Homo sapiens: one gene and its partners. The protein of the gene in region 2 interacts with the protein of the main gene of each other region in a pairwise test. Each region holds a gene or a part of one and is shown on either strand. Other genes may lie near its edges.

What was found. Proteins that work in one complex are often made in the same cells at the same time.
Region 1: the proteins of ZDHHC15 (region 2) and DHRSX interact in binary tests that used the Homo sapiens proteins (3 or more experiments, as listed by UniProt).
Region 3: the proteins of ZDHHC15 (region 2) and STX3 interact in binary tests that used the Homo sapiens proteins (3 or more experiments, as listed by UniProt).

The regions. Positions count from the first base shown.
Region 1 is NC_000023.11:2,218,572-2,226,175, reverse strand, and holds the end of DHRSX (polyprenol dehydrogenase), read left to right. Parts: intron 1-4,946; coding exon 4,947-5,135; 3' UTR 5,136-6,670; downstream 6,671-7,604. UniProt on the Homo sapiens protein: Oxidoreductase that plays a key role in early steps of protein N-linked glycosylation by mediating two non-consecutive steps in dolichol biosynthesis.
Region 2 is NC_000023.11:75,367,225-75,373,968, reverse strand, and holds the end of ZDHHC15 (palmitoyltransferase ZDHHC15), read left to right. Parts: intron 1-1,023; 3' UTR 1,024-5,542; downstream 5,543-6,744. UniProt on the Homo sapiens protein: Palmitoyltransferase that catalyzes the addition of palmitate onto various protein substrates.
Region 3 is NC_000011.10:59,785,177-59,793,809, reverse strand, and holds part of STX3 (syntaxin-3), read right to left. Parts: intron 6,774-8,633; coding exon 6,674-6,773; intron 4,938-6,673; coding exon 4,863-4,937; intron 3,292-4,862; coding exon 3,224-3,291; intron 1,704-3,223; coding exon 1,595-1,703; intron 712-1,594; coding exon 638-711; intron 431-637; coding exon 296-430; intron 1-295. UniProt on the Homo sapiens protein: Potentially involved in docking of synaptic vesicles at presynaptic active zones. Apical receptor involved in membrane fusion of apical vesicles.

The sequences.
Region 1 (7,604 bases), about 73 Mb from region 2:
AGTCAGGAGAGAAGTCACCTGGGCTTGGTCTCCATCTGCCGGGGTTGCCAGCCTGACGTCCCATAGACTGGGCAGCTTAGACAACAGACACTGATTTTCCCACCGTCCTGGAGGCTGGAAGTCCAAGATGAAGGTGTGGGCTGGGCGGGCTCCTCCCGAGGCCTCTCTCCTTGGGTTGTAGATGCTGTCTTCTCACTGTGTCCTCACAGGGTCGTCCCTCTGTGCATGTCTGTTTTCTCCTCATCTCCTCTTCTTATGAGCTGTCTCAGTCCATTTCAGGCTGCTATCACAGAATACCATAGACTGGGTGGCTTATAAACAACAGACGTTGACTCTCCCACAGTCCTGGAGGCTGGAAGTCTGACATCAAGGTGTGGGCAGGGCTGGTTCCTCCTGAGGTCTCTCTCCTGGGCTTGGAGACGCCGTCTTTTCCCTGTGTCCTCACAGGGTTGTCCCTCTGTGTGTGTCTGTGTCCTCATCTCCTTTTCTTATGACATGTCTTAGTCCAGTTCTGGCTGCTGTCACAGAATACCATAGACTGGGTGGCTTAGAAACGACATACATTGATTCTCCCACAGTCCTGGAGGCTGGAGGTCTAAGATCAAGGTGTGGGCAGGGCTGGTTCCTCCTGAGGCCTCTCTCCTTGGTTTCATATTTTGCAATATTAGGATAAATAATCTGTGCATGTGTATGAGTGTGTGCATGCAAATGAATATATAAGCATGTTTGCATGTGTATAAGTATGCATGTGAATGAGTATGTGAATGTACACGTGGATGAGCATGTGTGCATGTGAATGAGTGTGAGCATGTGTGCATGTGTATGTGCGTACTTGTGAATGAGGGTGCGTGCATGTGTATGTGTGCATGTGAATGTGTGTACATGTGAAAGTGCATGTGTGTGAGCTGTGTGCATGTGAATGAGTGTGAGCATGTGTGACTGCATGTGAATGTGTGTACATGTGAATGTGCATGCAAATGTGTGCATGTGTGAGCTGTGTGCGTGTGTGAGTGCATGTGAATGTGTGTACATGTGAATGAGTGCATGTGAATGAGTGTGTGCATGTGTGTGAGCTGTGTGCATGTGAATGAGTGAGCATGTGAGTGCATGTGAATATGTAAATGTGAATGCATGTGTGAATGTGAGCTGTGTGCATGTGAATGAGTGTGAGCATGTGTGTGTGCATGTGAATTAGTGTGCATGTGAATGTGAGCATGTGTGTGAGCTGTGTACATGTGAATGAGTGCATGTGAATGTGTGTGTACGTGTGTGTGTGCGAGTGTGAGCATGTGTGCGTGTGAGCTGTGTGCATGCGAATTTGTGTGCATGTGAATGAGTATATGTGAGCATGTGTTCATGTGAGTTTGTGTACATGTAAATGAGCATGTGTGCATGTGAATGAGTGTGAGTATGCATGTGCAAGTAAGTGTGCATGTGTGTGTGCGTATGCATGAGTATGTGTGTGTCCATATGTGTATATATATTTGTGTGCATGTGAGTACATACGAATGTATGTGTGCATGTCAGCATGTAAGTGACCATGCGCACATGAATATGTGTGTGCGTGTGTTTTTCTTACAGAAAAAAAATCATCCAATAGAACTTCATCACGTCGTCATCTCTGTGTCCCCAGAAATACCTACATTTTCAGCACAATGCGCTTGCTGTCTTCTAGAAATCACAAGCTCATTTTCAACATAGCACAGGTGGTATCTTGCCCCCTAAAACGGTAGTACTTGTGTCGCAATTGAATATGCATAGCCCAAGAACTCTTACTCAGATAAGAGGATTTTTCAAAATATGGTAGAAACAGAAGCCCCCAGACACTGCCCACAGGGGAACCACAAAGAGGAAGCCTCCTTCCAGAGAGTGCTGAGTTTGTTCAACAATAGGGACGATGCAGGAGAACCCAGGAGCGGCCTAAGCTGCAGCTGCAGAACACAGGGGCCTCTCCGGGTGGAGGCATCATACTACATGGTCAAGACACAGGTCGGGTATTTGGGGCATGAGCCCCTGAATCCTCAGTGTCAATGATGGCAGACAACAACACAAAACTTGTTCCAGGAGCTGATTTAAGGATTTGTTTGCAAAGAAGGCACAGCACTAAATATAACACAGTGTGGGTGAACATCTCAGGCACCAGCGTGAGGTGTAAATGCTCATTTCTGCGCAGCAGGAACCATGGTCTCTCCTGGGGACCCAGGGTGGCCCCCATCTGGCCTCTCTGATCACTTTGTCCAGAGCAGCAGTGTGGGAAGGGGCACCATGTTGGATTCACAGCTGCAGTGCTTGGTGTCCCTGCCTTTTATATGGAAGTGGGCTGGGCCCCAGAAAGACTCCGTATTTTCCAGCTACAAGATGATGGAGAAGGAAGAAGAATGCCGGCTTTGGGAGCAGATCCTGCCTGGAAATTGGGCAGAACACAGCCGCAAAAGAGAGAAGCATGAAACAGATCAATAAAACCTCTTTCTGCGTTGAAGGCTGCCCCAGAGAAAGACCCTCAAACACCATGGGTGCCTTCACTTGGCCCCTGCCTTCCCTCTCCCTTTCCTCCTGCTCTGTTCTGTCCTTCCTCCCTTCCTCTTTCCATCCCTTTCGCCTTTACTTTTGGTCTTTAGATGCCCAGGGCAAGACACGGGACACAGGGCTCCCCTGCAAGAGCCAAGCCATGGCGCCTGCATCCGCCCCCGAGATGTTTTCAGATACAGTCTCTCTATTAGTCTGTTCTCATGCTGCTAATAAAGACATGCCCAAGACTGGGTGATTTATAGAGGAAAGAGGCTTAATGGACTCAGTTCCATGTGGCTGGGGAGGCCTGACAATCATGGCGGAAGGTGAAGGAGGAGCAAAGGCATGTCTTACATGGCAGCAGGCAAGAGAGTGTGTGCAGGGGAGCGGCCTTTTATAAAACCATCAGATGTCATGGGACTTATTCATTATCATGAGAACAGCACGAGAAAGATCTCCCATGATTCAATTACCTCCCACTGGCTCCCTCCCTTGACACATGGGAATTATGGGAGCTACAGTTCAAGATGAAATTTGGGTGGGGACACAGCCAAACCGTATCAGCCTCCAAATCTCCCAGGACACTTTGGGTTTGCAAGATCTCTGGGCACCCCTAGGTGATTTCCAGACTTGGGAAGTTCTCTAGCTCCATCCATTTCTTTTTAGGCAGCAGAAGAGCAGAGGCAAGTCAGTGGGAAACAATCTCAGGAGTCTGGCAGCTCTGTTCCTCTACTGGGGTCCAGCCTTCCTGTTCCCCTTGCTCGGCACCCAGAGGATGGGCTGGTGGGCACACTGGATTGTCTACCATGCCTTTCCACGTCACACTGGCTGCTGAAGTCAAGACCAGGAGGCAGTGAACTGACAGCAGCAGAATTTCTGAAGTGACTGGGTGTCACAGGCCACCCCACAGAGTCCACCCTTTTCCTTTTTGGAGGGTGTGTGCCTGAACTCTCACCAGTGCTAGGTTTTGCCATGTGGCCCACACTCATCTTGAACTCCTGGACTCAAGCAGTCCTCCTGCCTTGTTCTCCCAAAGCACTGGGATTACAGGCCTGAGCCACTGCAGTGCTAGGGGCACTGGTGAGAGGTGAAATCAGTTCGGGCAAATGGATCATCACTCCCAGAAGACTAGAGGGGACATAACAAAGGCAATATCTGGTCTTTATTCCTGGTTCTGTAACAAGGAGGAGCTTCTAAAACTCTCGCAATTTCACAAATGCTAGCAATTCCCTGGTTGTATAATGAGGTGATATTTGCTGTTTCCTAAATGGCTTCAAGATGGGGCTGGCCACCAGAAACACCAACCATGTCATTAGGAGGTTGGAATTTCAGGCCAGCCTGACCTCTGGGGAGGAAAGAGGAACTGGAGGTTGAATCTGATTATGTGGCCAATGACTTAATCATACCTATGCAATGAGACCCCAGTAAAAACTCTGGACATCAAATGTCTTAGTCTGTTTGTGTTGCTATCACAAAACAACATAGGCTGGGCAACCGGTAAACATTTGTTGCTCACAGTTCTGGAGGCTGGAAGTTCAAGATCAATGCATGGCAGATTCTGTGTCTGGAAGGGACCTGCTTTCTGGTTCACAGACGGTGCCTCATTACTGTGTCCCCACATGGTGGATACGTTCACCAGATTCCCAGAAGCTTATTACAAGAGACAACTTCTGAAACATCTTCATTGTGACAGAAGTTAAGATGCACTGTGTTGGTTCCTGGATTATTGCATCCTAGCTCTGAAGGTTCTCAGGTCCCACAACTTCTAATTCCTCTGAGAATCCTACATTTCTTCCATCCCACTGACCATGACCAAGGGCCAACTCCCACTGCAGAAAACCAGGGTGTGCTGTGTTTCAAGATTATCGCCTTCCACTAGGGTAAAATCCCCAGTCTTTGAAAAACCTTTTTCTGCATCTCAAGTTCCTTTTTGAAACGTCTGTTTCCATGAAACATACGATCACAGCTCATAAATGCCTCAATTCTCCGATGTAGCATGCCTTGCTGAATTGAAAACAAGAATCTTTTTGATGTCCTGATGTTTCATCTAATTGCTAAATATTGTTTATTAAATACAGAAGCCAAGCACTCACTCATCTGCTTCTAGTCAATTAATAAGCATTTCGGTCCCATAAAGAGTGCGTGATTAAATACGTACATCAGGGATTTTAATATGCATCTGCCTAGTGAGATGGATTAACCCACCACTGAAATGCAACCCACTTGGGTACGTTATTGTCAGTGCCTGTTGTAAAGAAACCCAACAGCAGAAAAGCTGTGGTTCAGATTGATCACCCAACCTCGCTTTTTGCATACATTTCTCAGTGCAGCTGATGAGTATATTCCACCTGTCCCTGCAGCATCCATGTGAGTCCTGAGACTCCTGTTTCCTGCTCAGAAATTTGACTCATCGTAGCCTTCTTTTCTTCTTCCACCAGACCCCCGATGAAGGAGCGTGGACTTCCATCTACGCAGCAGTCACCCCAGAGCTGGAAGGAGTTGGTGGCCATTACCTATACAACGAGAAAGAGACCAAGTCCCTCCACGTCACCTACAACCAGAAACTGCAGCAGCAGCTGTGGTCTAAGAGTTGTGAGATGACTGGGGTCCTTGATGTGACCCTGTGATATCCTGTCTCAGGATAGCTGCTGCCCCAAGAAACACATTGCACCTGCCAATAGCTTGTGGGTCTGTGAAGACTGCGGTGTTTGAGTTTCTCACACCCACCTGCCCACAGGGCTCTGTCCTCTAGTTTTGAGACAGCTGCCTCAACCTCTGCAGAACTTCAAGAAGCCAAATAAACATTTTGGAGGATAATCACCCCAAGTGGTCTTCAACCATAAACTTTGTGATTCCAAAGTGCCCAGTTGTCACAGGTGCCATAAATAATTACATTTTCCAACATAAATGTGCCATTTTCCTTGCCGCGTTAATACAACTGAGTACAAAAGTTCCAAGAGAGATGCTCTCTTTTCAGGGGCTGCAATGTCCTCTCTGAGACCTAGTGGTGGATGAGGTCTCCTGTTTGATTTTGTTCCTGCACTCACTCATTTTTCCAGAGACCCAGCTGTGATTCACAGGTGTCAGACATGGGGAGGTGTGAGCCTTGCTTGCTACAGCCTGTAGGATGAGTTTGACGTGGCCAGCAGCACCATCTGGTCAACCTCATTCCAGAATGGCACAGTCACAAGTGAAGCATGCCACTGTCAAATCCGAGAATGTAAACCGCTGAACAGCTATGGATCAAATGGTAGCCCTCAAAAGATATGTTCATGCCCTAACCCTCAGAACCTATAAATATTACTTTATTTGGAAAAGAATCTTTGCAGATAGAATTAAGAATTTTGAGATGGGTCATTATGGATCATCCCAGTGAACCTAATGCCATCACGAGGGTTCTTATCAGAGACAGGTAGAGGGAGATTTGAGTACAGAAGACAAGATATTCGTGTGATGATGCAGACAGAGACTGGAGTGATGCCACCACAAGCCAAGCAATGCCTGGAGCCACCAGGAGCTGGGACAGGCAGGAAGGATTCTCCCTTATACCCCTCAGAGCAATCTTGGCCCCTCTGACGTCTTGACTTTAGACTTCTGGTCCCCAGAACGGAGAGAGAATAAATCTTTCTTGTTTTAAGGCTCCAACAAATTGGTAGTCACTTGTTACAGCAACCACAGGAAATGTATACAGCTTCTGATACTTCTGAAAACCTCACACAGCCAAAGGGTACATCCTTGGTATAGAGGCTCACTCTTACTCACCAGCCAGGCAAGGAAGGCTCAATCCTTTGGTGTTAGAGAGATAGATGTTGGGTTTTCAAATTTCAACATAGAGAAATCAGTCATTTGCAATGCTTTTGAGAAAGTACTGTGTATACCCTACGAGCCTGCACTCCTTATGTGTGAGACTGATGACCATTGGTTGGCTTATTATCCATTCCACTAAGTGACAAAATCCCACTGACTATTCAAATCCAGGCTCCTGGCATGCCTGTACCTTAGAATCACAACCAGCTGCAATTCCAGGATGGAGTTCAAACTAATTGTGGGGGCATGTGCTTCTTACATGACTGCTAGATTGTTCCCAGATGGGGAAGGTTGCCCTGATAAGCAACTTAAATGAAAATAATAAATGTATTGTTTGGCCTCTTTAAAAAAAAAATCATTCATCCTCCGGGAATGGGTTTGTCACCACAGATGGTGATTTTCCTTGGTAGATAACCAGGATGCCTGGATTTCTGTTGTTCCTTTACAGAAAACCAGGAATTTTATGTCATGGACCCACTAGACAGGGGACCTTCCTTGGTACAAAAGGATAAGAAATGTGGATTTGTTCCCTGGGATATTCACGTTAGATGCTTACTACATCATCGGTGTAAGGTCAGCCGAGAGAGAGGATGAGGAGACCTAAAGTCAGGCAAGCAAACTTTACTGAGCTGCTTGGCTGCTCCACCACAGTTAGTGGAGGCAGCCCCACTTACAGACTATAGCAGGGTTTTATAGGGCCAGAACCAGGTCGGGGTGGGGGAGCTGAGTCGAGGGTGCAGGAGGATTGGGTTGGGGTGGGGGAGCTGAGTAGGGGGTGCAAGTGTCTTGACCGCATCCTGGAGATGTTTTTCACCAGCTTTGTTATGCAAGGTTCACAGACATGCTAACCACATCCTGTAACTGTCTGGACAAACAGTTACTGGAGGGGTCAGTGAAGGCGGGGGGCGTTTGTCTTTAGCCCTGGGGGAGCTGTGTGGAGAGTGCAAGGGACTGTATTGTAAGGCCTGTGGAAGGGGAAGGGAACGGTCTGGTTGGGGTGACCCTAACAATCGGTATGCTTCTGTTTCGGGCAGAGCTCAGACCTCAATACCCAGGACTCTCAGTGCAGAAAGAATGAGCTCAAGCCCCTTCTGCAGAAAGATGCAGTCTCTGTGCAGAATGTCTGCTTATATCCTGAGACCCTTCATAGGAAAACCATGAATGATACAACCAGACTAACAGGCCAGGAAACAGCCTCCGGGAAGGAGAGGTTGCCAGAGGTTACAAGGAACAATGAAACTTGCAGGAAACATGCATGATATTCACCTCCCTAGTGTAGCTGGATTCAT
Region 2 (6,744 bases):
TGGGGATTGTTAATGGCTACAAAAAAAAAAAAAAAAAAAAAACAGAAAGAATGAATAAGACCTAGTATTTGCTAGGGCAACAGGGTAACTATAGTCAAAAATAATTTAATTGTACATTTTAAAATAACTATAAAAGTATAACTGGATTGTTGGTAACACAAAGGATAAATGCTTGAGGTGATGGATACCTCATTTACCAAAATGTGATGATTATGCATTGCATGCATGTATCAAAATATCTCATGTAATACATAAATATATATATACCTACTATGTACCCATAAAAATTAAAAATAAAAATAAATTTAATAAGATATGTTATCCAATTTTCCATCATCATAATGTTGTGAATAATATCACTAAACATAAATCTTTCTCCTCATTTATAATCATTTCCATAGGATAGAATCCTGGAAGCAAAATTACTGGTATGAATTTTTTAAAGGGTCAATGGATAAGGCCAAATCATTTTCCGGAAAGCTTAAACAAATAGCTACTTGAGGGCCTACTATATGCCAGATATTGTTTCAGGAAGATTATATTATACCAGTTTTACAGATGAGTAAACTAGGATCCATTGACATTATTTTTCTAGAGTTATGGAGATAAGAGGCAAAGCTAGAATTCAGCTTCATAATTGCCCAATTTCAAAGCTCTTGTTATTTCCATGTGGATTTCAAAAATAGTATTTTTGAAGTATCAAATTATATATTTACTAAAGAAAATGTGGAAAATGCAAGTAGAAGGTAGAGAAATGAAAACAAATTACCCATGAATCCACCACTTTCAATAGTTCAGTGTATTTCCTCAGTCTCTTATTCCAAATGTAATTTTGGGGGTCAAAAATATAGCATTGTATATATAATTTTATATCCTGCCTTTTTCACTTAACATTTTTCAGTGCTGATCTATACTCTTCATAAATGTAATTTTAATGGTTGCATATTATTGTCAAGTGGGTGTTACCACATGAATATTTACAGTTGTTCAGCTCATCTGTGAATTTCTTCTCTTCATTCCCAGGACTCACCATCTCTGCCTCCCATGAGGCTTACAGAGTTCAATGTTGGAAATCATTGTAATCTTCAAAATAAGTCACCGTGTTGGATTGAAAGCTTCAAAATTTGAAAGAATTCCATCAAATACTTGCTGTGTAAATGTTTCTGGACTTTATGTTATTTAATTTACTGACTGAAATCCAATTTGGAATTTGGTAGCAGTTAATTCAAGCCAATTTTTTTTGTTTCTTCATTTCCCCTCCCCCAATCCATGAAAGCCTAAATGTAAAATATATCTTTTCATTCATCTTATCAGGTAAAAGGAAATTCAGAAAATTTCCTTAGAGTCTTTAATTCCCCCACAAAGATTATTAATCACATATATAGGGCCTTTTTGGTGTTGAAGGGAATCAAACTACATTTGCTGCTTGTGTGCGTGTGCATTTGTGAACACGTACAGCATATCTATACAAAATTCTGCTATAGTGTGAAAATCAGGGCTAAAAACCTGAAGCCTTTGTTTAATTATGCTTTTCCTCTAAATAGCAACTTAAATATTTGCTAGACTTTGAATCATCGCTATATCAAGTATCTAAAATTTGGGAGGGTGAATCAGTACACTGTGACCAAGGTCCTCAAATTGGAATTTGAACAACAATGTAAAACCTGTTCTGTCACAAATGTTCCTGAAAGCACCACAGCTACTCAAGAAGATCAAATTCAGGACATAAACTTTATTGAACATAATAACCAGTGTTTTTTAAAGACTTTTTTGTCAGGGTGCAGTAAAATTCTCCAATTACTTTTATTCATTTATCTGCTTCCTAGTTTTATTTTAGCCTTTATGAGTTATTTTATGATGAAAGAAAATCTATAAGCCTAAGTTATGGCCCATAGGTTTTGTTAAGGGTTTTCAGAGTGATTTTCAGGTTTAATTTCACTGCCTTTCATAAGGGTAAAGTTTCACAGCTGACATTAGCCTGAGGATTAGCACTAAAGAGCTGTGTTTTCATAGCAGGGGCTATTGTACAGACAGTGATAACCAAATAGTAATATGCCAGTTCTTTCTTCTTTTTTTAGCTTCAGTAGTAGCTAAGCCATTAATACAGTTTGCATCAATTTCCCCATTTATTTATAATCAGCCTTTCTTTTAGTCCTAGTGCCTGAATCAATGAGTGAGAATACTAGTACTGATTCTTTACAATAATAATATCTTAAGAGTATTGATATCTTTCATTTTTTCATCCAGCAGTCTAGTGCCCAGCTGCTGACAATAAAAGCTCCAACTCTTTTAGAGATCAGTGGAATTTAGAAGCATCTTACAGGTATCAAGGAATTGAGCTTCTAGAGGGATGGTTTGGCTTACTAATTTATCTTCCCTGAAATATGTTTGAGTAAAAAAGAGTTGCCTGCCACAATTTAGTGTTGGGGTTCCAGTGGAGCTGAGAAAGTGAACAATCCAGCTACTTAAAGCAACAACAAAACCTGTTCATCTGGATCCCTAGGTAATTTTGACCAAGGTGAGACTTTTGGCATAAATTAAATGGATTGTGGTCAGCATTACATTTGAGAGAATACTAGACATGACTACACTTATTAGGGCTAGTGACTTTCTCAAACTCAGAAGCTAAAAAGCAGCCTAGATGACTATGCACACACTGGGTTTCAAGATGAAATCTTCTTATATATTCAGATGGAAAAAAATTTCCCCTTACACTCTTTCTCAAAATACTCTCATTTCGGTTTTTCCTGAAACCTTATTTGGCCATTCCCATGGTTTTATGACAGACAAGCCTTGTCTTCTATTCATATAGATATGCACCTTTTTCTACATGTATGGCCTTTACTTACTACACAGCAAGTAGGCCTCAAAGTAATCTTCCTCTTTCCCATCAATCATCTTCTGCCAAGCATTCAGGCAGAGCAGCTGTTAACTGTGATTCAAAGTCAGAAAAACATCAAGAACTTCTTTGATGCATAGGGTGTATCAGCACTCAGCTCCCACAGAAGTCAAGTCACAAAATATAGTGTCAGTTAACTATAAGGAAGTTCCGGAGAGGTAAAGCTCAGGAAAGATGTAATGCAAAGCTGATTGTTTAATGTCTTACAGATTTACACTGTCTTTAAAAGGCCAAATAAGGCTGGGCGCAGTGGCTCACACCTGTAATCCCAACATTTTGGGAGCCCAAGGCGGCCGGACCACCTGAGGTCGGGAGTTCAAGACCAGCCTGACCAACATGGAGAAACCCTGTCTCTACTAAAAATACAAAAATTAGCCAGGAGTGTTGGTGCATGACTGTAATCCCAGCTACTCAGGAGGCTGAGGCAGGAGAATCGCTTGAACCTGGGAGGTAGAGGTTGTGGTGAGCTGAGATCGTGCCATTGCACTCCGGCCTGGGCAATAAGAGTGAAACTCTGTCTCAAAAAAAAAAAAAAAAAAAAAAAAAGCCAAATAAATCAGGGTTTTACCAGGGGCTCAGAGATAAAAAGAAAACCTATTCCTATCTTAGCATTTTGGTCTCATTGGTTTATAGACTCTGATAATATCCCTATCCATGGATCATTTGAGTATTGACTAATGTACATAGGTACCCAACTGGTTGATTATTAATCAAGAATACAGAACTTTATTTAATAATTAGCACACCCTGATCTGGCTTCTTTGCTTGCTTTTCTTTGGATCCCTGTCCAATAACCTCTGTGGAATCTCATTCCCTAATTGTTGATACTCATTTTCTCCGTTTGCAAAATGAAGATACTCATTGTTAGGATCCTACTGCTGAAGGGTGCTATGTCACTTTCTAGTGCTCTTATATGTCTTTAATTATAGGACTGGAATGAAAAGCTTAACCATACAGTATTTCTAAGCAAAATAATGTACTCCATTCTTTTGTCCATGCTCTCATTGCTGATTTGTTCTTGCAGGACTTAGAGCACTTTGTTAATGTTCTTCCATTCACTCCAACAGCGTCCTCAGAAAGAGACAGAATAAAAAAATTGTTCCCCATGGTACAGCTGGAAAAATTAAGGGGAAAAGAGATTAAGTGGTCCCCAATGGAACACAGCTGTCTTATGCAGGGCTCACAGTTACCATGTTCAGTACATTGTTAAAGTAACTTGGCTTCCCAGGACTGGAATTATCATGGAGCAGTTAGAATTTTGAGAGTAATTACAACAGGATCACATTCTGAAAGAGTCACATTTTGTCAAAAATCTGAAAAGTATGCAATTTGTACAACTCTTACTTTCTATGTGATAAGAATGCAATATGTGCCTCTTTCCCCTACTAGCCCCATGTGACACATATTTTTCACACTATGTGGCATCAACCAGTGCCATTACCTCCTGTGGCACCATAGAGCCCAATCTCAGGGCAGACATTGCCAAGGTAAAGAATGCACTCCATGTTTATACCAAATTGCACAAAGTATAGACATTGAGGTTAATGGAGATTTAAGCACAATCCTAGCAAGTAAGTTTTAAGAATACTGAATATTATACATTATTGTAACATGAACCTAAAATTAATTTAACAGGGCCCAAATTCATAGGAATGTAACAGTCATTGAAAGCCTATTCTTTTCACCTCTCATCACACATATCTACATACATGTATGCACATGTACACACACACACACACACACACACACACACATACACATTTTCTCCAAAGCAGGCTGCCTCTTCAGCAGGAGCAAATACTTTAATTTAAAAGAATGATTATCTGTTTTCTCCTTTTAGAAAAAGAGTCTAAGAAACACAGCATGTGAAGAACATTAGATTTATACATTCCAGAATCTCTGCTCTCAGAGTAGCTAAGAGATTCGGTACAGAAGACGTTCTATGGAGAAGCACAGGGGGCATCTAATGAGATTGTCAGGCCCTTGGACAAGATCCATATTCTTAGAAAATTAATGAGTTCCATCTCGTTAGGAATTGGTTGATGAGGTATGGTACATCTGCATTTCTTTAACCATAGCTGTAATGTACCATATTAAATTGTAGCCTTTTGCATGCGGGTATTATATAATAATGAATGGGTGGCTCCTAGTAGCATGCAACCCATGACTGTTTACTTCCCTAAAAGGGTTAGGTCTGTGTCCTGCACAGTGTTCAAAACCATTAAATGTGTTCTTTGTAGCAGGATGGTACACAGCCATCAGCAGAATGAGTTAAAACCAACAATGAATTCAATATACCAGGAAATAGATTGTTAGTAGGGAATGGCATTAAAGGAAAAAAAAATTAGATAAGATGCATTCAAGGAATAATTACTTTCACTCTGCTGGCTTAATCAGTGAAGGAACATAAAAGGAAAGCTGGCAGTGGGTCTTGGTAATATATGAACTATATTAGAGTGCCAGAAAAGGAGACCTCAGAAGTTAAGCATAGGTTGCCAATCTGCTACAATTATTTTTCCCACCAATCTGCTCAAAATGATTGTATATAGTATTCTTAAAACCATGTGTCTTGGTGCAGAAATATTGACAAATGCTGGCCAGCTTTATCTTCCTATATCCTTCATTAAAAGTATATGCATATAATTGTTGGTTTTTTTTCCTAAATTGTGGCTTTGTTAAACAATGTTGACAAACCCTAAAGTTTCAGACTACTCTAAGGAAGTTTCTATACATCTAATTTCATAGGGGTATAGTGATGTTTGTTCACTCAGGTTGATTGGTATGCGTGGTATGTAGACTTCTCTGTAACATCTCACCTTCTGAACAGCCCCTTCCATGTGTTCGGTATTTCTGTCTTATGTTCCTACATGAATATGAATTGGGAAATTAGCTGCAATGGCTTTTAGATAGAAAGCTGACCAGTCTAGTGACACTTAATCACATTCAGTCTCTACTCAGCCTCACACATCTTTTGCCTTTCACTCTGCCATTGTGATGAAAGGAAAAAGAAAGAACTTTTCTTATGTGCCTAAGGGTGAAGTGAACTCTGGTTTGCTTTTTCTTACACTGAAGGCTATGTGTACTATTCTCCAGATGCATGTCACCTGAAAAAAGATACATAGAGGGGAACAACAGACACTGGGACCTATCAGAGGGTGAAGGGTGGGAGGAGGGAGAGAACCAGAAAAAATAACTAATGGGTACTAGGCTTAATACCTGGGTGATGAAATAATCTGTACAACGAACTCCCATGACACAAGTTTACCTATATAACAAACCTACACATGTACCTCTGAATTTAAAAGTTAAAATAAGTATAAACAAAACACACTAAAAAAGAAACACAGTAGCCCACTTACTCCTAACTCATACATTACCCTCAGAGAAATATTTGAGGAGACCCTCATTAAGGTAAGCCCCAGATAAGGTTTCCCTCAATTGATGCACCATTTGCAGGAAAAGTCCTTTTTCAGACAGAATGGAGAAAGCCCCCAATTAGCCAACCAGGAAGGCAGAAGTCATTCAAAATGCAGAGCATTGAAAACTGAAGTTTGGAACAGTCATTGCTGACTTTCTGACCAATTAATAATGGAGAACTTGAATCACTTAAAAGAAGCCCAACCCATAGATGTCAGGCTTAACACAAAACCAGAAAAAAATCTTTTATTCCAGCCAAGCTTATTTTTTTTAAAAAAAGTACTTACTTTGTCCTAGGTAAAGACCTCAAATATCTCTGTAGAAAATCCCATGTCATTTATTCTAGTGAATCAGTTACAAAGAGCTCATATTACAAACAAAGTGTTACTGGAAAGGGGTCTGGACCCAGACCCCAAAAGAGGGTTTTG
Region 3 (8,633 bases), on a different chromosome or scaffold from region 2:
AATCAAAAATCCAGGAAAACTGGGTACTTGACAGAACACATCAAACCCTGTATCAACTAGCAACGACTGCAAGGCCAAAGGGACAGGCAAGAATGACAAGGTTAAGATCACCCAAAGTGTCAACATTCAATTTGAATGCACACTTTCCCATGGGATTCTGTTTCTCCTTTATGCAAATTCCCAATGGTTCTCCCACCCTACCTCACTGGCTTCCAGTATTCCCTTTCTCCCTGTTCTCAGTAGACCCTGAGCTTTCCTCTCCTCCCTCCCCACGCTGGGACTCACTGCCACTTACCTGATTCTCCACCAGCATGGCGATGTCCATAAACATGTCGTGAAGCTCCTTGATGCTGCTCTCCAGCCTCACAATGTCCTTGTGTCGTCCCTCAATCTCACTGAGGGCTTGCTTGGAAATCTGTGAGTCAATGATCTACAACAGGCCACACACAGACTGTTAGCTACCCCTGCAAGAAAGGCTGCCCCTGCCACAGCCCTCATGCACGCTCCTGGGGAGCTCCTTGCCTCCCTGAACTCCCTGCACCTGCAGCTCCCCCTCCACCTGCTGGACTGCATGAGCTCCGCAGTGGCCTCCCTGCTCACGAGAGGGATGTGCTATCCGAGCACACAGGGCACTCACCCCAGAAGTGAAGATGGCCGGGTTGCCACTCTCCAACATCTCCTCCAGCTCCTCATCGGTTGTCTTTTTGCCAGCTTTGTAACAAAAGAAGTAGAGCGTCAAATATAAGATCACGGTGAAACACCATCTGATAAGGACCCTGAAAATTAGGAACGTGACTTCCCTATAAAGACCGTGGCCTTTACAACACTCCCCCAATTGCCTCCTGACTCATCTTATTTCTGCCCTAATCCAAGCCATCCTTAACACTATCAGCAGTTACCTTCCTAAAGCACTTATCTCATTACATTGCTTCCCAGCTCAGAACATTTCCTTGCCCCATTCACTACACTATGGTGTCCAAGGCCCTCATAACATGCTAGTTCATGGGCAAGCCCTCCCTCAATCCATCCTAACCTTATGCTACTCCAGACACACCCTTTCTCCAGACCCTAGACAACCTGCCACTCCTAAACACACTTGCTCTTTCTTGATTATGTTCATACCATTCCTCTCATCCAAAGCACCTTCCACTCCACGGGGCCCTGCCTTCCACATTACTACATTCCTAAAGGGTATGGCTTTATTTATTTCTCTAATCCTCCCAGCAACTTACACCATACTTTTATCCTCCCAGCAACTTACACCACACTTTTTATTTCTTAAATGTGCTTTGCTGTCAAACAGACAGCAAAATGATACAATGAGTCCACAAGAGAGCAACTGTTTGGCAAGCATTTCCCCTCTATATAGGAGACAATGCTGGACCCCATACAATAAAATTACTTGGGCCTGATAAACACGGTGTCACCTTTCAGCCTACAGCACAGCATTCGGGATGTGCCAGTGGTGCAGGAGCTGCCCTAGACTTAGGCACAAAATGTGCTTCCTGCTTGCTCCACCAGGGCCTCAAAACTTGGGATGGACAACCAGGTGGCAGGAAAGGTGGAGGGCACACGCCAAACCTCAAGTACATACTAATTTCGAGCTGCCGCTGGATTCGCCCTTTGCTGCGTTCTCGGAAGTCCACTTGAGCTTCATTGTATTTGGTCATCACCTCCACAAACTTCCGAGAAAGGACAGAGTGCTGTGGGATGATGTAAAATGCAGTCAGGCCCCAGTGGTTCTGTAACTGTTATAGAACCCCTCCCCACCCCCACATAGCCATCTACAATAGCACTGGACTTGGAATCAAAAAACCAGGTGTCAAACCAAGTTTTTTGTTTCCTAGCTTTGTGCCACTGGGAGAGTCCACTGCCCTTTCCAGAGCATGGTTTCAGCACCAGTTTACTGAAACCGGTTTACTGCTGACCTCACGTGGTAATTGCGAGGCCAGAGGTCATCTCTAAATCTCTGAGCCCTACATCCACATGGACTAGTAGCATTTTTCTGGCACAACACTTGGCTTGCATTCTAAAACTGTCAGATTCCCTTCCCACATGTCATACTTACCAAAGATCCTTGAGTTCTTACGCTAAACTCATCTCCCCAACTCTTCTTGCTTATAAGTAGATGCATTATCTCAACAGCCCTGCATGCCTAAGCTAAAACCTTCCTAATAATTTTTATTCCTTGCTCACCTCTCAGCATCAAGCCCTACTTACTGGTTTCTCCTTTGGAAAATCGCCAATATATATACTTTTTCCAAACCCACTACCACCATACAAATTTAGACCAAAACCCTTGCAAAAACCTAACTAGGGACCTTCCAGTTTCCTGCTTCTTTCCCACTTGTAAACGGCTTTCAAATGGCTACCATAATAATCCTCCTAATATACTGCCGCCTGAAGCAAATGCCTGTAAGTTATAACATCAGATCCAAATTCCCCAGACTGGTCCTCAAAGACCTCTAGAATGTGGCACTACATTATCTACTAAAAATTATGTGTCCACTATCCCACAGCAAACTTTTTTCTACAGAAAGCCTATTGTCTTCACGTCTGCCCCTTACGTCTACCCACCACCACTACCAACCACTGCTGCCAACACACACATATGTGCGTGCCTCACTCCTGCCCCTGTGCCTCTCAGAGAGGGGAAACTACTTCCTGAGGCTGCTCATGTTGGCACTCTGGCCCAGCCTCCTCTGGCTACCCCCCATTCTTCCTGAGATCTTTTGATGCTGAGAGCACCATGCATGTGTCTTCTTATCGCATCCTCCTGCTGGGTCGCATCCTCCTGCTGGGTCTTAGGTAATAGCTTTCCATGCCGCTTCAATGGCATGCCAGTTCTTTAAGGACAAGGATCCTATCTTTGATGACCCCTAAAGTGCCTAGCTCCAAACTGGACAACCAATGACTAACAATTGTTAGAAGACATTAATTTCCTCTCCTGTAAAACAAGAAGGCACGCTAAATCCTAAGCTGTGCTCTAGGAAGCCTGAAAAGCTCTTCAGGGGCCTCCTTAGAGAAGGAGAGTACAGGAGAGGAGCCAAAAGGGCTGGACTCTGGCCCTGACCCCTATTTCAACCTGGAGAGTTCTCCTTTACCAGGTCTTCAAATTGAGTTTCAAAATAAGGATTGTATTAAAAAAAAAAAATCCCTCCACAGTTAAGGGAAAACAATAAGAGATTGGACTAGCTAATCATGAGACCAGGAAAAGTCTTACCTGGGATTTCCGAATCCGAAGGTCTGCCGATGACCTGACCTCATCTTCTTCAATATGCTTCTCCATGCCTAAAGAGGAGAGGAAGGTTATACTTGCAACCTATCTCCGCCTCCAAGAAACATGCTATTCAGTGAAACTTCCTCACTCATTCCCACACATCCAGCCCACGGAGATGTAACAGGTAGGTGTCACCTCAAAAGGTCAGCTCCCAGATGAGCCACAGGACGTGCATTCCACAGCCTTTACGATGACCAGGTTTTGGCATAACAGTTAACAGCATGGGTTCTGGTCACCATGAGACTTAGGCTTGAATCCTTGCCCTGGCACTTACTGGGTGTGACTTTGAAAAAGCCACTTAACCCCTCTTAATGTACCTGTTCTCTCATCTGTAAAACAGAATAACAGTCCCTCCCTCACAATACTAATGTGAAGATTAAATGAGAAGACACATAAAGTGCCTAGCACAATGGCAGGTGCACTATCACTGTTATTACTGGAATCTGCTACTAATGACTCCTCCAGTTAAAATAGTTATTGCAATATACTTGGGGGGAAGAAATGGTAAATTGAGCTGAGCAATAATGCTTTCTCTTCTGATCAATAGCATGCATGCACCAAATACACTGGGCAAGAATGCAGGCTCTAGCAACAGAACTAAGTAAACCTTCTAGGCTCTGGAAGAACTGAATCTATGACAGTAGCTTCATTGAACTATACTCTCCCAAATGGGGGGAGTGAGGGTATGGGAAGGTGGTATGCCTAGCCCACCAAGAAATATCTGTAGACTGAATGATATCTCTTGCATTTATATATCTCTAAAATGACTATTCAAATGTATGTAGGTGGCCGGGCATTGTGGCTCAAACTTGGAATCCCAGCGATTTGGGAGGCCCAGGCAGGTGGATCACTTGAGGCCAGAAAAGTTCGAGACCAGCCTGGCCAACATGGCGAAACCTCGTCTCTACTAAAAATACAAAAATTGACTGAGCGTGGTGGTGCATGCCTGTAATCCCAACAACTTGGGAGGCTGAGGGATGAGAATCACTTGAACCCAAGAAGCAGAGATTGCAGTGAGCCAAAATTGAGCCACTGCCTTCTGGCCTGGGCAACAGAGCAAGATTCTGTCTTAAAAAAAAAAAAAAAAGTATGTAGTTGCCAGGGAAATAAGACCAATAAGAGAAAAGTTGATGGGCCAGGTGCGTCCCAGTTACTCAGGAGGCTGAGGCAGGAGAATCACCTGAACCCAGGAGGTAGAGGTTGCAATAAGCCGAGATCACACCACTGCACTCCAGCCTGGGGGACAGAGTGAGACTCCGTCTCAAAAAAAAAAAAAGAGAGACAAGTTGAAAGACTAAGTTAAAGGACCAAGTCACAAAACTACTCAGCAGCTGAAAGCACATTTTAATTCTCATCTCCTAGCTTCAATTCTGGACTCTTTCCAGTACAGTCAGGATTTAAGAAAAGGTAAATTTCTGGGGCTACAATGGATCATTGCGGGGACAGAGCCCAAACCACAAGCAAAGATGGACCAAGTGGTGTCACTTCCATCAAGAGGAGTTTCAGTTCGGAAAGCTGGACCCTAGGGGAGCTGAGATAGATGGTGGTGGGGACGGCCTTGTTTTCTTTGTTCCCTTCTTACTCTTCAGTTTGTTCCGGACGTTGTTGGCCCTTTTCTTAATCTCAGTCGTGAGCTGCTCTAGGTCATCCTTGGTTTCTGGGTAAATAAAGGCAGGCAGAATCCGTTAGAAAGGAGAGGACTGATTCCTTTGTGAACTACAGCAATCATCATCAGAGGAGGGGAGCTTTATCGGGCATCCACTGCCCAGAATGGTATTTATCCCTACGCACTCCCCAGCATCTGTCATTAGAATCACAGAGTGCTTATTTTTTTAAAGGCATTTTCCAGGCACCCCATCTCAGTCTACAGAATAAAAATACCCAGGGTTGGAACCACAAAATCAGCTCTTTCAACCCTCCTGAGTAATCCTGCAGCACATAAAATTGTGGAAACTCTGCTTTTAGAGGAAAGAGCCTACCACGGGAGCTTCGGTTGAGAAGGTTCTAGGGAGCTTATGGGGAAAATAGATTTCAACCAAGGCTAATCAACTTAAAATGAGGCAAATATTTATGACATACCTACTACACACATCCTAGGTTGTATGGAGCAAACTAAGTGTTAGCTATAACCATTCATTCAAAAGCCATCCTTCAGCCCCTACTACAACTTTGGAACAGAGCTAGAAACTATGGAATCAGAAAGAAGATCTAGATTTTTCCTGCAAGGTGTTAGAGTCTAGTGGGAGACAAAGGAGAAATAAATCAGCAGCTCTAATATGCAGCGTGGAGTAAGGTATGAGTTCTGGTCAAGGTGTGCACAGCCTGGAGGGATCTGGAAAAGCCTCTAAAGATGGAGATGAGCAGGACTGAGTCTCAAGGACTGTGAGTTGGCCAGGTAGAGAAAGAGACTAAAAGCAGGAATTCCACGAGAAGAAACAGTAAGTAAAGGGTATGAGTGAACAGGAAATGCCTGGGGAACCAGACAGAGTTGCTCTGGCTGAAGCGTGGGAAGCAGGAGGAGGATGGCAGGAGACAGGCTGGCTGGGAAGGCAGGAATGTGATCAAGACAATGCCCATATGCTCTGCTAAAGTGTTCCCACTTCAGTCTTTAGGTAAGAGGGCCCATGGGAAAAATGAAAGAGTGGAATGACAGTGTCAGGCTTGTTCCCTGTTCTTAAGGAACCAAAAATATAGCCCTAAACCACCCGTGTCCAAACCGTGGAACGCACGGATTTTTTTGCTTATCTGTAGTGGCAGATATCAGGAAAATTATGCACAAACCTTTCTTTCAGCGCTTCAGCTATCGTTAGTGTTAGTGTATTTTATGTATGGCCCAAGACAATTCTTCTTCCAATGTGGCCCAGGGAAGCCAAAAGGTTGGACACCCATGCAAACAATTAGGGGAGAAAAAACGTTTGCCTAGGTGGTGGTAACAAACAGGAGTTTAGGGATAGAAGGAATTTCTGTGAACTCGAACCATTTTGGAACACCTCATGGAAAGAAAAAATGGACTTGATCTGGTAGGATTCAGAAAGAGGGCTAGGAAAAGCAGTTCAGGCTGGGGAAATAGTACACGCAGAGGCTCAGAGGAGGGACAGGGCACAGGGTATGTAAGCAGCAGTGGGAATCGTCGCCAGTCAGGAAGAGGGACTAGCTGGGAAACAGGAAAGTCTAGCTAAATGGTTGGAGTGGGACCATGAAGACAAAACCTTGACTGTGGCCAGGCAGTAGGAGCTCAGGTAAGGTAAAGGGGAGGGAAATGAGATAATATGTACACTAGTGCCCTGTAACTTGTACACTTCCCTACTGCTCACGAAGGGCAAGAAAACAAGGCTGGCTCAGCTCCAAGGAAAGGGTGATTGTTGGATGACTCAGTTCTAAGTAAACACTCACTTGGCTCTGGAATCGGTGCAGAGAGAATGATACTGTAGAGTTTCTTAGCCTCCTCTACATGTTCTGAGATCTTGTCAATGTTAAGCCGAGTTTCCTCAATCTATAATCAGAAAGACAATAACCTTCATCATCAAAGAGGAAGTACAGGTCCATGGCTGAGATAAACGTTTGGCAGAGCTGCTGGTGAAAGCTGCCCATCTTCTGGGTTTGTGGAAGAAGATAATGACTTAAAGTCCTCAGCTGCCCAGTGAGTACCCTTTCCATGGTCAGATAAAGTAATCTCAACAGAACAGTTGTTAAAAATCCATACTTGTTGCTCCCTAAGAGTAATACATTCACCCACTTTGGATGAAAGGATTCAGGCCAAAGTCAAGAAGAGCTAAGAAAAACCATGAAGAATGATCAGAGGGGGAGAATCAGCAGACCTTAGCAGGCAGAGCCTTAAAGCCCAAAAAGTGAGAACAGAAAAGAGTGAGGATGAAGGAGAGGGGAAAAAGGAAGGAAGGAAAGAAAGAAGTGAAAGGAAAAGAACAAACCTAGAGAGTGAAAAACACAGAATGAGAGGAAGAGAAAGACAGAAACAGATAGGCCAGGCGCGGTGGTTCATGCCTGTAATCCCAGCACTTTGGGAGGCCGAGGCAGATGGATCATGAGGTCAGGAGATCAAGACCATCCTGGCTAACACAGTGAAACCCCGTCTCTACTAAAAAATGCAAAAAAAAAAAAAAAATTAGCCTGGTGTGATGGTGGGCGCCTGTAGTACCAGCTACTCGGGAGGCTGAGGCAGGAGAATGGCGTGAACCCGGGAGGTGGAGCTTGCAGTGAGCCGAGTTCGCACCACTGCACTCCAGCCTGGACGACACAGCGAGACTGCCTCAAAAAAAAAAAAAAAAGAAAGAAAGAAACAGATAAAGAAAACAAGGAGAGAAAAAGAGAGATACTAGGCAATGAAGGTCTCAGGAGACAGCCCAAGCTTCTCTAGGACACATATGTTCTTGTACTAACTGATTTCCTCAGACGATCAGGACCCAGTAGCTCGAGCCACAGCCCATTTCTGCATATTTCTAAGGCTCCTGATTGTACAAGGCTGTGAGTATCATAAAATATTTCCAGCAGCACTTCATTCCCAGGTAGAACGCCACTGTCAGACATTCCTGTGTGAGCTTTGACTGCAGCCTCAGCTCCCCGCTTCATAGGTGCCCATGCCACTGGTACCACAGCCCTGCTGCAGTGGAAGCCTATGTACAGGGAGCAGGGCAGGAAGGAGAGACCTCAGCACCTGTAGGGTCTATCTGCTTCACTCTCAAAGTGAAGGGCACATCAACATTGCAACAATTGACAAACAGAAATCTTGTAAAATGTCATACAGTAGGATCCTAACATCTGAGATGCAACAAAAATAAAACTCAATGCATATGCAGCTTCCAGCATCCCTCTTTTCCTGTGGACACTTCACCTTTTTCAAAACCTGATTATAGCTCTTCATATTCAATAGAAAATAGGAGAGGCCAGGCACAATGGCTCACACCTGTAATCCCAGCACTTTGAGAGGCCGAGGCAGGCAGATTACTTGAGCCCAGGAGTTCAAGATCAGCCTGGGTAACATGGCAAAACCCCGTCGCTACAAAAAATACAAAAATCAGCCAGGCATCGTGGCATGCCCCTGTAGTCCCAGCTACTCAGGGGGCTAAAACGGAGGATCCCTTGAGCCTGGGAGGTTGAAGCCACAGTGAGCCATGATCATGCCACTGCATTTCCCGCCTGAGCAACGGAGTGAGACTCTGTCTCAAAAACAAACAAAAAAAAAGGGAAAAGAAAGAAAATAGGAGAAACAATACTTGAGCTCTCTAGCCCTCAAATCAGTACTTTTGCCACTGGAGCACAGGATTTTCCCCTCTATAAATATATTGGCTTAGATGTGCCAGAGTTTAAGAGTAGAGCTGCTTGCTGAAAGATGTAG